Homo sapiens: one gene and its partners. The protein of the gene in region 3 purifies or fractionates together with the protein of the main gene of each other region. This does not show direct contact. Each region holds a gene or a part of one and is shown on either strand. Other genes may lie near its edges.

The links. The genes of interacting proteins can lie anywhere in the genome.
Region 1: the proteins of CCDC97 (region 3) and TTC33 purify together in Homo sapiens (affinity purification with mass spectrometry; 2 studies listed by BioGRID and IntAct, with this or other methods). This does not show direct contact.
Region 2: the proteins of CCDC97 (region 3) and U2SURP purify together in Homo sapiens (affinity purification with mass spectrometry; one large-scale study listed by BioGRID and IntAct). This does not show direct contact.
Region 4: the proteins of CCDC97 (region 3) and PAXIP1 purify together in Homo sapiens (affinity purification with mass spectrometry; 2 studies listed by BioGRID and IntAct, with this or other methods). This does not show direct contact.

Annotation. Positions count from the first base shown.
Region 1 is NC_000005.10:40,728,462-40,731,961, reverse strand, and holds part of TTC33 (tetratricopeptide repeat protein 33), read left to right. Parts: intron 1-1,618; coding exon 1,619-1,700; intron 1,701-3,485; coding exon 3,486-3,500.
Region 2 is NC_000003.12:143,022,070-143,025,569, forward strand, and holds part of U2SURP (U2 snRNP-associated SURP motif-containing protein), read left to right. Parts: intron 1-427; coding exon 428-593; intron 594-783; coding exon 784-995; intron 996-1,905; coding exon 1,906-1,949; intron 1,950-2,414; exon of another isoform or gene 2,415-2,479; intron 2,480-3,500.
Region 3 is NC_000019.10:41,322,773-41,325,373, reverse strand, and holds the end of CCDC97 (coiled-coil domain-containing protein 97), read right to left. Parts: 3' UTR 501-2,601; downstream 1-500. UniProt on the Homo sapiens protein: May play a role pre-mRNA splicing through the association with the splicing factor SF3B complex which is involved in branch-site recognition.
Region 4 is NC_000007.14:154,965,125-154,968,624, reverse strand, and holds part of PAXIP1 (PAX-interacting protein 1), read left to right. Parts: coding exon 1-222; intron 223-714; coding exon 715-809; intron 810-3,500.

The DNA.
Region 1 (3,500 bases), on a different chromosome or scaffold from region 3:
AATAATTGTATGTTAAATAATTGTATTGAAAGTGCTTTGTAAAACATAAAATGCTTTGGAAATATAAGTGTTGCTATGTGGTCTGAAGTGGTACTCATAGTTAGTGGGCTAGAGCCACTGGAGGAGGTCTTCATGAAGAACGGAGCATTTTAACTTGGTCTTAGAGGAGGAGCCTTTGAATAGATGAAGAGGAGTAGGAAGGCAATCTTAGATATGTGATATGGTTTGGCTCTGTGTCCCCACCCAAATCTCACCTTGAATTGTAATAATCCCCGTGTCAAGGATGGGACCAGGTGGAGATAATTGAATTATGGCGGCAGTTTCTGCCATGCTGGTCTCATGACACTGAGTTCTCACGAGATCTTATGGATTTATAAGGGGCTTCCCTGTTTGCTCAGCGCTCATTTCTCTCTCGTGCCTCCATGTGAAGAAGGATGTGTTTGCTTCCCCTTCTGCCATCCTTGTAAGTTTCCTGAGGCCTCCCCAGCCCTGTGGTACTGAGTCAATTAAACCTCTTTCCTTTATAAATTTCCTAGTCTTGGGCAGTTCTTTATTGCAGCGTGAGAGTGAACTAATACAGATGTGTGTGTGTGTATGTGTAGCAGGGGATCCATACTAACAAAGGCATGATATGTGGGTAGGGACTATAAAAACCCTGCTGAGTGGAGCACAGGTATGTGTAGGGAGTGGTAGAAAAAAGATTGGACAAACAGTCCAACCTTTTCCTTCTAATGCTGGAGGAAAGACATTTGCTACTATTAAGTCTTGCAGAATTTATTACTGCTACCTTTGTTAGAAAATTGTGAGTGGAAGGATTGTTATGAAGGAATACATCAATAAATTAATTTCCAAAGTTTTTCCTGTCACATCTACAATAACATTTGGAAATATTGTTTAGAGAGGCTTGAAATCACCCACAATATGCCTAAAGAAGTGCAAGTACTTTCTTTTTAGGTGATATAGTTACTGCTTTTAGAGGTTATATCATTAAAGCTTAGTAGATGATGGCACCACAGTACTAAATTTATTTAATGTTGTATATACTTTTATTATTATTATAAATAATCAGAAATGGGTGTTAAATTATACTAAGTATTGTTTAGTGGCATGTACTTTTTTCTCCCTTATCTGTTACATATGAACCCATTTCTAAGTTTTTCTGAGCATACACTACATGATCATGTGGATTTTGTACTTTAGTAAGTTGCTGGACTTAATTTGCTAATCCTTTATTTTGGATTTTTACATATATTTCATGGACTAGAAAGTAGTCCAAAAAACTGTTGAACTGAAAGTACATGACTGCTCCTCCTGAAAGCAGTCTAAGAGTAGAATGGTGTTTGCCCGGGGGTGGAGGAGGGGGCAATGAGGAGTTATTGTTTAATGGGTATGGAGTTTCAGTTTGGGAAGATGAAAAAGTTCTGGAGATGAATGGTGGTGGTGGTTGCACACAAAGGTGAATGAACTATATGTACTTAATGCTACTTAATGCCTCTGAACTGTACACTTAAATGGTTAAGATGGTAAATTTTATATTTTACTACAATAAAAATTTTTTTTTGAAAGTCCAAAAAAGCATATTGAAAATATGGCATTGATATAACTTTAACAACCACAGATATCGGGAGGCAATTCAGAAGTGGGATGAAGCACTACAGTTAACTCCAAATGATGCTACCCTATACGAGATGAAATCACAGGTAATAATTATGAAGAATTTCACTTTCCTTATGAAATTGTGCTATGTTTGTTCGGTGAGTGAGCAATGATGAAGCAAAATAGCATTTTCTCCCATTTTCTTTTACAAATACGGTTTCTTTGGGAAAAAATATTTCACCATTATTTATGGTTCTGTCTTATGCATAAAACTGGAAATTCATTTGCCTTTACAATGAAGTTAACTGTTATTTTAGCCTAACTATTGTAAGATAGGAATCGGTGGCTATCTTTTAAAGTCACTGGTGGGCAGGTGCCATGGCTCACGTCTGTAATCCCAGCAATTTGGGAGGCCGAGGTGGGTGGATCACTTGAGGTCAGAAGTTCGAGACCACCCTGACCAACATGGTGAAACCTTGCCTCTACTAAAAATACAAATATTAGCTGGGCGTGGTGGCACATGCCTGTAGTCCCAGCTACTTGAGAGGCTGAGGCAGGAGGACCACTTGAACGTGGGAGGCGGAGGTTGCAGTGAGCTGAGATAGTGCCACTGCACTCCAGCCTGGGTGACACAGCGAGACTCCATCTCAAAAAAATAAATAAGTAAATAAAAAATAAATAAAAAGTCACTGTTGAGCTCTTAGATGAAAAACATACGCTTTCCTTGTGATTAAATATAGTAGACTTAGCAAAATAGTTCAGTTTTCTTAAAAATGAGGATGGATTGGGTTCTAGATGAGATATTTCTAAAAATGGCTTAGTCCTTAGCAAAAGGTCAGCATAGATGCAATTTTATTAATAGCTTAAAAATAACATTTGTACTTTAAAAACATGTTTCTAATATTTTGTAGGAAAGTCTGTAAAGAAAACCTTTGAGCACTTGAATAGGTTATCCAAGTGATTTTAAAAGTCTCACACAGAGCATTAAACATATTTTTGGCAGGGAATTGTTGCAATTCAGCCTTAATCTGCACACCTAACAAATATTTTTCAAATCGTGATCTCAAATATAGGACACACATTTGTCACCTTTGACTTTAGTTTATCCAGGAAAAACCCAAATAAATTATGTCATCTGAATCAAGTGATATGAGGACCTTCATTTGTATTCCTTTTTCAATCTTAAATATGTATATATGAATGACAGGTTTGTGGCAAGCTTTATGAAGACTTGTTTAATTTGGAACCTGATAATAATGTTTGTATCACAAATCTTTTAAAGTGTTAATGGTCCTAAAGATTATAGATAAAATCCAGCCTCTTCCCACAGACCACAGTGGAGGGTACTAGAACTCTCTGGTAACCCTAACTCTCCCTAACCCTAACCCTAACCCTAACCCTACCTTCCTAGTATGTATGGTTTGAAATGCCCAGTAGTGAGAAGGCCTAGGGAATGTTTTAAATACTTTTTATAACATAAAGATGTTCATTAGGGACGGGATGGCTGGTTGAACAAATTAATTCACCTAGTTTAATGGCAATACCTGGGGTTCCCTGAAAACCACATTGTAAATAGAATAAATGGAAGTGGAATTGGGAGTTCAAAATACCTCTGAGCCACCATAGTTAGGATATGACCACTTGGTTTTGACCAGATGGACATAAGATTCAATAACTGGAAAGGGAATCGTTTACATTTTCATAGTTATATAAGGGGTGAAAAGAGAACTATAATTTCTTACCCTGAATGGCAGAGTAAGGGGTAAAAATCACCGAAATGCTATTTTTACTGGACTAAAAATATATCTTAAAAAATGAAAAGGGTTTTTTATGTAGTTGCTAGTTTATGAATATTACTGACAGATTTTTTGGTCTTTTTTTGCCTATAGGTGCTAATGTCTCTT
Region 2 (3,500 bases), on a different chromosome or scaffold from region 3:
TAGAACAGATGATTAGATACTTTTTTTCTTCATTGTCAATACATATTTCCTCTTTAATTTAAATGTACTAACCATGCCTGCTTGAAAAATGTTACTAAATGCCTAAACAAACCATCACTATAAAACATCTTACTTAGATCCAGGACCTTAAAACAAAGGAAGATAGAGAGTAAAAATGATTTTGATTTCTTCATCCACTGAACTTCCCCACCCTGGCATCTTAAATAAACCAGAATATTTATAGTATGAAATGATTTATGAATGCCCCACGCGGGATTTTACTTGTGTGGCGTTCCTGGTACTTAAATGGAAAATTGAAGCACGTTGCTATGTTGCTTTTTATTTTGTAAAAACTACTTTGTTTTCTGAAAATAATTTTTTCTTTTCCCTTTTTTGCATAATAAAAATCTTTTACCCTTTTTAATAGATGAATGAAGAAATGCTGTGCCAAGAATTTGGAAGATTTGGACCGTTAGCCAGTGTGAAAATCATGTGGCCTAGAACTGATGAAGAAAGAGCCAGAGAGAGAAATTGCGGCTTTGTGGCCTTTATGAATAGAAGAGATGCTGAAAGAGCTTTAAAAAATTTGAATGGTAAGAACATTTTTATTATCCATTTATACAATTCAGATATTTCTTTGGTTTGGAAAAGTATTTATAAAAACTAGGAAGGATTGGACCTGAAATGGAGAGGTTAAAATGAAAATTATTTCAACTCACCAGAAAAATTTTGTTTGGAAACTTTTGAGAGTTAACAAAATGACCTTTCATTTCTTTCTTGTAGGAAAAATGATTATGTCTTTTGAAATGAAGTTAGGTTGGGGTAAAGCTGTACCTATTCCTCCACATCCAATATACATTCCGCCTTCTATGATGGAACATACGCTTCCCCCACCTCCATCCGGACTGCCTTTTAATGCGCAGCCTAGAGAGCGGTTAAAAAACCCTAATGCTCCTATGTTACCGCCACCTAAAAACAAAGAGGATTTTGAGAAGGTAATTTAAAAAATGGACATAAGGCCGCATCTAATTTGTAAATACTAAAGCTGTGGTAGTATTTCTTTTCAACAATTTTATAGAAAATGTGTGTGTAATTCTGTTTGGCAACTTTTAAAGAAATAAGTAGATGTGTTCCCTGCCTTAGCCCATGGAAACCCTATATTTGAAATACTAGGTCATATTTTTATTTGTGGCTACCATTCCTTTTTTGACCACTTGTTAAGTTTTTTTTCCTTTGTCCAGTGTTGTATCCAGATTTGCTTAAGTGTATTAACTAAATTTACTTTGTTCTGAGAAAGTGATACTTTGTATTTGGTTAAGTGACATTTCAATTAGAAAGACCTCCTAAGTAGTTATTGTTTGGATGGCAGCTAGATCTGAGGTATTAGAATATTTGAGAAGATTTATGTGGTTTGTAAAAAATAGTTAATCTAGTAAAAGCAAAGGGTGAGTATTTTCTTTTTAGTAAATAAAACCAACTTAATTTCAAGTTATAAGAATTCGTTGGTTCTATTATGAATTAATTACACTTAAAATGACAGGGCTGGTTTTAAAGGCTTGGGAACAAAGTAGCGAACTGTATGGTCAGAGGCAAACAGTTAATTATTTCACAAATTAAAATCTTTATCTGATAATTCTCAGTGTAGTACCTATTTCAGTGCATTGATGTGCATTCTGGCAGGAATGTTCTGATTCTTTGCATTTGGTGAACGTTTATTGTTCACTGAACACATCCATTTGCATTTATGTAATTGCTTAGTGTATAATGACTTCAAATGCAGTGATTGCCTGCAAAACTTGTGATTAGATATGTAGTATTTTCAATGCATATGTATATTTTTGCTTGTTACTTGTTAACAATACTCACATATTCTATGTTTATTATCTGATGTGACTTCATATACAGACTCTGTCGCAAGCCATAGTCAAAGTGGTTATCCCAACAGAAAGGTACATGTTTTTCTTTATTATTACTGATCTAAATATAGACAATATCCCCTTCTGAATTTAAAAAGAAATGGTGTTGAGGAAAAGGTAGTATCTTGACTGAGCAATGGTTCCTTCCCAGTACTTTTTGCGGGGGGATGTGTGAAATTTAACTAACTTTTGTATACTTTGCAATTTTATGTCAGTATCTTTTTTTGTTTTTATTGTTATCACTGTAGGGAATGTTTATAGTTTGACTAGTTAGAGTGTATTTATTAGCTCTGATTTGGAGTCAGACAATAGACTATTGTCATGGGAAAATAGATGTTTTAAGTGTGTCGTAAATTTCAGATAACGTTACAGTTTGACCCAATCTGTTGTTATTTTTTTCTTGTTTTCTGAATTATCTGCATTTAATATATAACCTTGGTTTGAGTTCTCCTTACTGAAGGCATAGCTTTGTTTTTTGTTTTTTCAATTGATTTTAAGAAGAAATTCCTATTATTGTCATGAACACTGGACATACTAGAAACTTTCTTTTCATGGTAACAAAGGTATTTGGAATTCTTTTATTTTCCTTTCTTCCTTTTTTTCTCTTTCAACACACTATTAAAGCAGAAGAATTCATGCTGTAGGTATGCTCTTGCTCAGTCAAGCTAAGCCTTTTCCCAAACACAGGAACACAACACTGGTTGAATAATAAATGAACACAAAAGAATACCAAATTCTCTTTGACATTGGCCTTGGTGAGCAACACCAGCTGAACTGTCTGCGGCAGCGGGGGACCAGGAAAACATCATGGGATGGATTGGGAAAGTATACAGTTTTTGACCAGACATTGGTACGATCGACTCCAATAAATGTGGTTTTATTATAACTGAGAGACAATTTTTTGTTTTTGTTTTTTTTTTGGTTATTGTTGCCCAGAATAAGATAATTACCATTTTAAAATTAAATAATGCACTTTAAATATATCATCTTTTTGTACTACACTGTTTTATTCTAATAGAAAAGTCACCATTTTTAAAATAAACACAATCCTTAAGGAAGAAGAATGTGATTACAGTTCTTTAGTAATCTTGACATCAAGTTAATAACAATTAATTGTCAGATTTTGATTTTAAATAATCATGAAACATTTTAAAAATACTTATAAACTTTTAATTTTCTAAAAATAGATTTATCAGTTACAAGCCTGTTTAAAACTATAGTGGGTTTTTCACCACTGATAAAAGCATTCACAGGATAGTATTTTTGTAGCATTCAAAAAAAGCACATATCTAGTGGTAGCTTTACATGTATGTGGCTCAGCTTATTTCTAAACAAAATTTTGAGTGTGCGTTTTGCCGAAAGTCTTCACTCACCATTAGGATGAATCCTTTGTTTTTAAACTTGCTAAACAATTTTCCTCTATCTTAAATGCTAAAGTCAAGTTGCTTTTGACTTAATTCACACAAGTTTCTGGATGTATAACATTTGTCCACCTAGTAATTAGTCTTATACATAAAATTTCCCTTAGCTTTAATTTGGCTCCTATCAGTGGGGAGTTTTGGAATTGAATCATAACTTTACATT
Region 3 (2,601 bases):
CTGGAGCTGGAGGGGGAAGAGTGCAGGGAGGCAGCTTGCTTTGGCAGGACGCATGGAGGTGTCAGACGTGGGGGGCGGGGTGGCGGCCAGGCCAGCGAGCCAGGCCAGGGCCAGGACGGACAGGAGACACGGGGGTGGGGGCCGGATGCCCACCTAGGGGTTGTCTCCCAGCGGGGCCCGCCCTCCCTGACTCAGCCTTTCCACCTACCCCGACCCCGGGAGAACTGGGAGGGGGATGGGAGGCACCCGCCCTGGGGCCCACCACCCCCAGGTCTCAGAGGCAGTGACCAGGGGGTGTGTCTCCCGTCATCCCTACCCCACTCTGTCTCCACCTCTCTTCCTGTCTCCCCATCTAATCCCTGTCCCTGGGACTGGCTCCACCTCTGTCTGTCAGCTAGATGCTCACGTCTTGACCATCTGACTAACCCTAATTCTGACTCAATTTCTGTGTCTCTCATCGCTTTTTAAAAACCTACACAACAAATTTACGTATAGCAAAGTATATTGTAAACAAATTTAATGACCAAATGATAGACTGGTAAAAAATGTGCCTATCACCAAGGGCTGATACCTTTCCTGTGGCCCAGGCCCTCTGCTCTTTAAAAATGGGGCACAAATACAGGCAGGTAAGAGACAGACAGCTCTCATCCTGCACTCTTGGCTTTCTGAGAGATATGACCCCAAGGTCCTGGAGTCTAGCTGCTGCTTCCTCCTCTGGGAAATAGAGGAGTGATATTGGTAGTACCTAGGGCATAGCACTGCTGGGACAATTCAGTGATTTGGGGACTGATCTCCATATCAAGATGACCTGATCCTGTCTGTGTGCGGGACAGTGGCTAGCACGGAGCCCTTGTTAGGCCCGCCTACCATCTGACCCTTCTCAAACCTTCCCGTCTGAGGACATCTGCATGCACACTTGTCCCTCCAATGCTGTCTCACTCTGGATGGCCCTGACACCTGAGAGGCCAGACAGCCAAGTGGTTTCTAGGACCTTTGTGATTCTAGGCCTGGGTTCCTGTTTCATTTCTGCCTCTGATGGCCGAGTGGCCTTGAGGAAGCAACATCTTTCCAGGCCTCCTTTGACCCACTTCACTAGTTCATGGGGCCATCTGAGGATCCAACCCGGTGTCAGGCACTTCGCTCGGGCCTGACAGAGGACAGAAGCGCTCCGTAGCAGAGGCTTTCGTTCTTTAATAGTCGCTCTGAGCATCTTGTCTGCCTCCATCCAGCTCTCACTTTCCCTGTCTGGCTCTAATTCTGGTTGACCCAGAGGGCATAGCTGAGGCTCGGAGGTCAGGAACCGTGGACTCCAGGAGGCAGTTTTGAGGGTCCTTCAGGCTTGGCCACGGCAGGATACCACCATTCCATCTCAGAGGCATGAGGAGTCCCTAGGCCCCGACTTGGTGACCCTTGCCCTGTGTGCCCCCTCAACAGTGGCCAGGCCCTCCTGTGTGTGTCTGCTGGGGGAGCAGGAGCCGGGTGTGGGGGCATGGGAAGGCGGGACGCCTGGGTTCCCACAGGCCCGGTGGCTGAGTCACCAGGCGGCCATCTGGCTCCCATTAGCCCAGGGCGGCAGGGGGCTCCATGGGGCGGGCCCTGCGGCCAGCTGGGGGCAGGGACGCTGGGGCAGGCTGTGTGTGGGATGACTCAGGACCCATGATAACAGCCTGTGCGCATTTGGGGAGTGTAAACAGGAGAGGGAGAGGAAGGCGGAGGAAGGGAAAATTGTGGTTGGGCAGAGGGGGGCTGGTGGGGCTGAGAAGGGTAGAGTCCCCCCTCCCTCTACACTCAAGCTGGCAGGCCCCGTGATCCACAGCCTGGGTCCTGGGGAGAGAAGAGAGCTGCCCCCATCCTCCCTGCCTGGGGTCTCCTCCCTCCCCTGGGGCTGTATTACTCAGTGGTCAGGGTTCTGCTGCCTATAGCAGCCAGGTTTGAGGGAAGGGGGAAGAAGGGGCCCAGAGCCTGGAGTGGGGGATCAAAACCCAGAGATAAAGGCTGAGAGACAGACAGAGAGGGACAGTGAGAGCAGAGGCCTAGAGAGGTGGAAATGTACAAGTAGAAAGAAGAGGCCCAGAGTGAGGCAGAAGGAGAGATGGGAACCTAACAGAAGCAAGGAGGCTCTGAGTGTGAGACACAGCGCAGACATAAACAGAGAGGGGGAGACAGACAGCACGGGAGGCAGCTGCGCTGGGGCCTAGGGGTCAGCACCGGAACCAAACTGGCCACTTCCAGCCACGAAAGGCCCTGCCAGCTGGCCTCCGGCAAGGGGAGGACTTTCACCTTGGGCCCTGCGGTGGAGACAGAGCCTAAGGCAGAGAGAGAGGGGGAGAAAGGGAGAGACAGCCAGCCAGAGCACTGGAAAGAGGGAGCGGGGGTAGGGAGAGAGACAGAAAGACAGAAAGAGACAGAAAGAAGCCCAGACAGACACCAAGAAAGACAGAGGCAGGAGACAGGGTGGGAGAGATGAGAAAGGGAACCCCAGAAACAGTGGGGGTGGGGGTTGTCTGAGATGAGACTAGACCCAGTGAGATGGTGGTGTGTGTGGGTTGTGGGGCACTGCCCTGATGTCCCCCTAGAGAAAGGGTCACTGAGCAGGCCTGG
Region 4 (3,500 bases), on a different chromosome or scaffold from region 3:
AGCAGCAGCAACAGCAGATTCAGCAGCAGCAGCTCCAGCGCATGCACCAGCAGCAGCAGCAGCAGCAGATGCAAAGTCAGACAGCGCCACACTTGAGTCAGACGTCACAGGCGCTGCAGCATCAGGTTCCACCTCAGCAGCCCCCGCAGCAGCAGCAGCAACAGCAGCCACCACCATCGCCTCAGCAGCATCAGCTTTTTGGACATGATCCAGCAGTGGAGAGTTAGTAATGGAGATTATTTTTCCTCTCTCCTAAAAGTCTTGTACCCACATAAATGCTTTGAGAGTGTTTGAGTGTGGGGTGAGGATTCATATCAAAACAATTACTACAAAATGGAGAGTGTGAGTCTCATACCTAACAAAGAATATAGTTACCATGGGATAATTATGCTTTCTTTTGTACTTTGGGACATCATATCCTGAAGTGAATATTGGTGTCCCGTAGAACATCTAGGCTGCCACAGGGACTCATTCAGGGTATTTAATGGCCAGGCATGAGTTACCTTGGTTTTAGTTTTTAATGATCATTTGATGTAGACAGTTAAATAGTATCTTCGTAGCAATATTCCCTATGCACTCTGATTACTGGCAGATACGTCATGGTCAAGACTGATAAACATAACAGATTGACATTGTGAGGCGCCACTTTTTAACTTTTGTGCAAGCATATTCATAGGGTTTTAATTTTCTTTTTCTTATGTAATTTTACTCTAGTTCCAGAAGAAGGCTTCTTATTGGGATGTGTGTTTGCAATTGCGGATTATCCAGAGCAGATGTCTGATAAGCAACTGCTGGCCACCTGGAAAAGGGTGAGATTGTGCCTGGAGGAAGGATGACTGTGTCTGAAGATGCTTCTTTCTTATGTAGATGTAACTGTGTTCACTTAGCTGCATTCACTGAGCTGCACCTGCACGTGTTCTGAATGTGTGACGGGCATTTTGATTAACATTCTGTGTGACCTGAGGCACAGCACTTTTCTGGGCATCAGTTTTCTCAGCTGTTAGATGAAGATGGTGGACTTTTTATTTTTTTCAGCTTGGAAATTCCAGGGGGCACTAATTATATGTGTATAATTGGGGCAATGGAAATAAGTTCAGGGTTTTGGTGTCCTGGGAGAGGGACTATTAATTTGTATGCATCTCAGTCATTTCTCTTTCTCCAAAGGTAACTGTTAGAAAATCCTGGAATCTCTAGAACCTCAAATTCTTCCAGCCCAATTGTGAAACTGGAGTTAATTTAATTATGTATTATCATGCATGGTGGCCTTTAAAGAAAAGAAATACTTTTTCTTGCATTCCCCAAAACAAAACTGAGTCAAAAAATTTTTTTTATAAAAACCGAGTTTAAATATGCCTCTAATATATCTTGAATGTGCTTCACTATAAACATCCCTAGTGCTTAAATCCCTGCTATGTGCCAAGCATGCTGCAAGACTTAGGGAATATGTGCGAAATCACAGAGACGGAGAAAACGGAAGAGCAGTGCGAGAGGCAGCCACACGGCTAAGCAGAGGTGGGGTGGCAAATGCAGGCTGTTGTGAGAGCCTGAGAAAGGACCTTCACCCATCGTGTTGTGGGGTGATGTGTTAAGAAAAGTCTGCTGGGAGAGGTGATTCCTGAACTGCTTATAGGATGAGTAGGAGTGAGAATTAGGGGGGAGGATTTTCCAAATAGTGCAGCACAGCCAAAGGCATGTGATTGGTGAAACTGACAGGAGGGTGCAAAGGAGGGTGCCTCAGTGGGATCCACGAGGCAGGGGTTGGGGCAGGAGCCAGGGCTGGTGTGTCTTCCAAGACCTTGTTGGTGTGCCATGTGGTGAAGTTTAGATGCAGGTGAAGTGATCAGCTGTGCATTTTAAATAGTAAAGGGTTGAATCTGAGGGTGACCAGGGAGATGACTGTGTGGCTGGCTGAGGAAAGAGGCGGATGGCATGTGCCAGGGTGAGGAAGGAAGGGAGCAGTTCTGAGAAGGACAGCAGCAGAGATTTTTTAAAAGTCAGAAGTGTTCGAAGGCAGCACTGAGAAACTGTCTTGAGAAGTACAACAAAACTCAAAGATACAAAAGTTAGTGGAGAAAAGTTTGGGGTTTTTGTCTTGTTTTCAAGTTAAAAGATTTATCCAAGAGGTCTAACATTAAATAGGATCTTGGGAACAGAGAAAATGAAGGCAAGAACATTATGAAAGAAAATAGCTTTGCAACTGAAGGCCATGTGCCCTCAGGTTGAAAAGAAATGTAAGGAGAGCCATGATAAGGCAACTGGGAACATTCACAATGCTGGTAGAGAAAACTGTTTTCTCTCAAAGACAAGCTCACTGGAGGGGAAACGTGGACAGATCAGGAGTCTGGGTGATTTCGGGAGCCTCCAGTGCAGTGCGCGGGGGCCAGCAATGGAGCAGCTTCTTCCATTTTTGAGGGAAAATAATTTCCAACCTAAAATAACCTATAGAGCCTATCAGTCATAAGACTATGGAAGGAGGATATTTGTAGACTAATGGTAAAAAATGTACCTCCCTTATATTCTTTCTTAGGAAGCCACTATGCCAGCAGAGAGTGAAACATGGTAGCCAGGAAATGAGGCATTTGACTCAGAGATTGAAAGAGAGTTCCTAGGATGGAGGTAAAGGGAAACGCCAATAGATGAGAAAGTAGGTGTCGAGAGAACTAGACCTGGGACCGGAAGAGAGACTTCCAGGAGGAGCAAGCAAACGAAAACACTGGTAGATTGAGGAGAGACATGTACCGCTGACCCCTGAACAGTGTGGGGCCTAGGGGTGCTCACCCCCATGCAATCAGAGATCTGTACATCACTTTTGATTCCCGAAAACCCAAATTACTAATAGCCTGGTGTTAACCAGAAGCCTTACTGATAAACAGGCAATTAACGCATATTTTGTATATGTATTACCATATTCTTACAATAAAGTAAGCTAAAGAAAAGAAAATGTTATTAAGAAAATCATAAGGAAGAGAAAATATATGTACTATTCATTAAGGGGAAGTATATCATCATAAAGGTCTTCATCCTCGTCGTTTTCACGATGAGTGGGCCTAGGAGGAGGAGGGACAGGAGGGGCTGGTCTTACTCCCTCAGGGGTGGCAGAGGTGGAAGAAAATCCAGCTATCAGTGGACCCACACAGTTCACACCTGTGTTGCTTAAGTATAGGTGATACTACATTCATTTTCTCTTGCTGTGTAACAGATTATCTCAAAACCCAGTGGCTTAAAACAATAAACATTACCTCTCAGTTTGGTCGTGGGTCAGAAATCCTGCAACAGCTTGGCAGGGCGGTTGTGGCTCAGCTATCTCCTGAGGTTGCAGTCAGGATGCCAGCGGAGGCTGCAGGAGCCCCTTCCAGGATGGTTCCGTCACATGGCTGTGGGCTGGAGGCCTCAGCTCCTCACCACAGAGGCTCTCCAGAGGGCTGGTTGTGTGTCTTCACAGCATGACAGCTGGCTCCCTTCCCCAGGGGGTGTGACCCAAGATAGAGGGAAAACCCGCA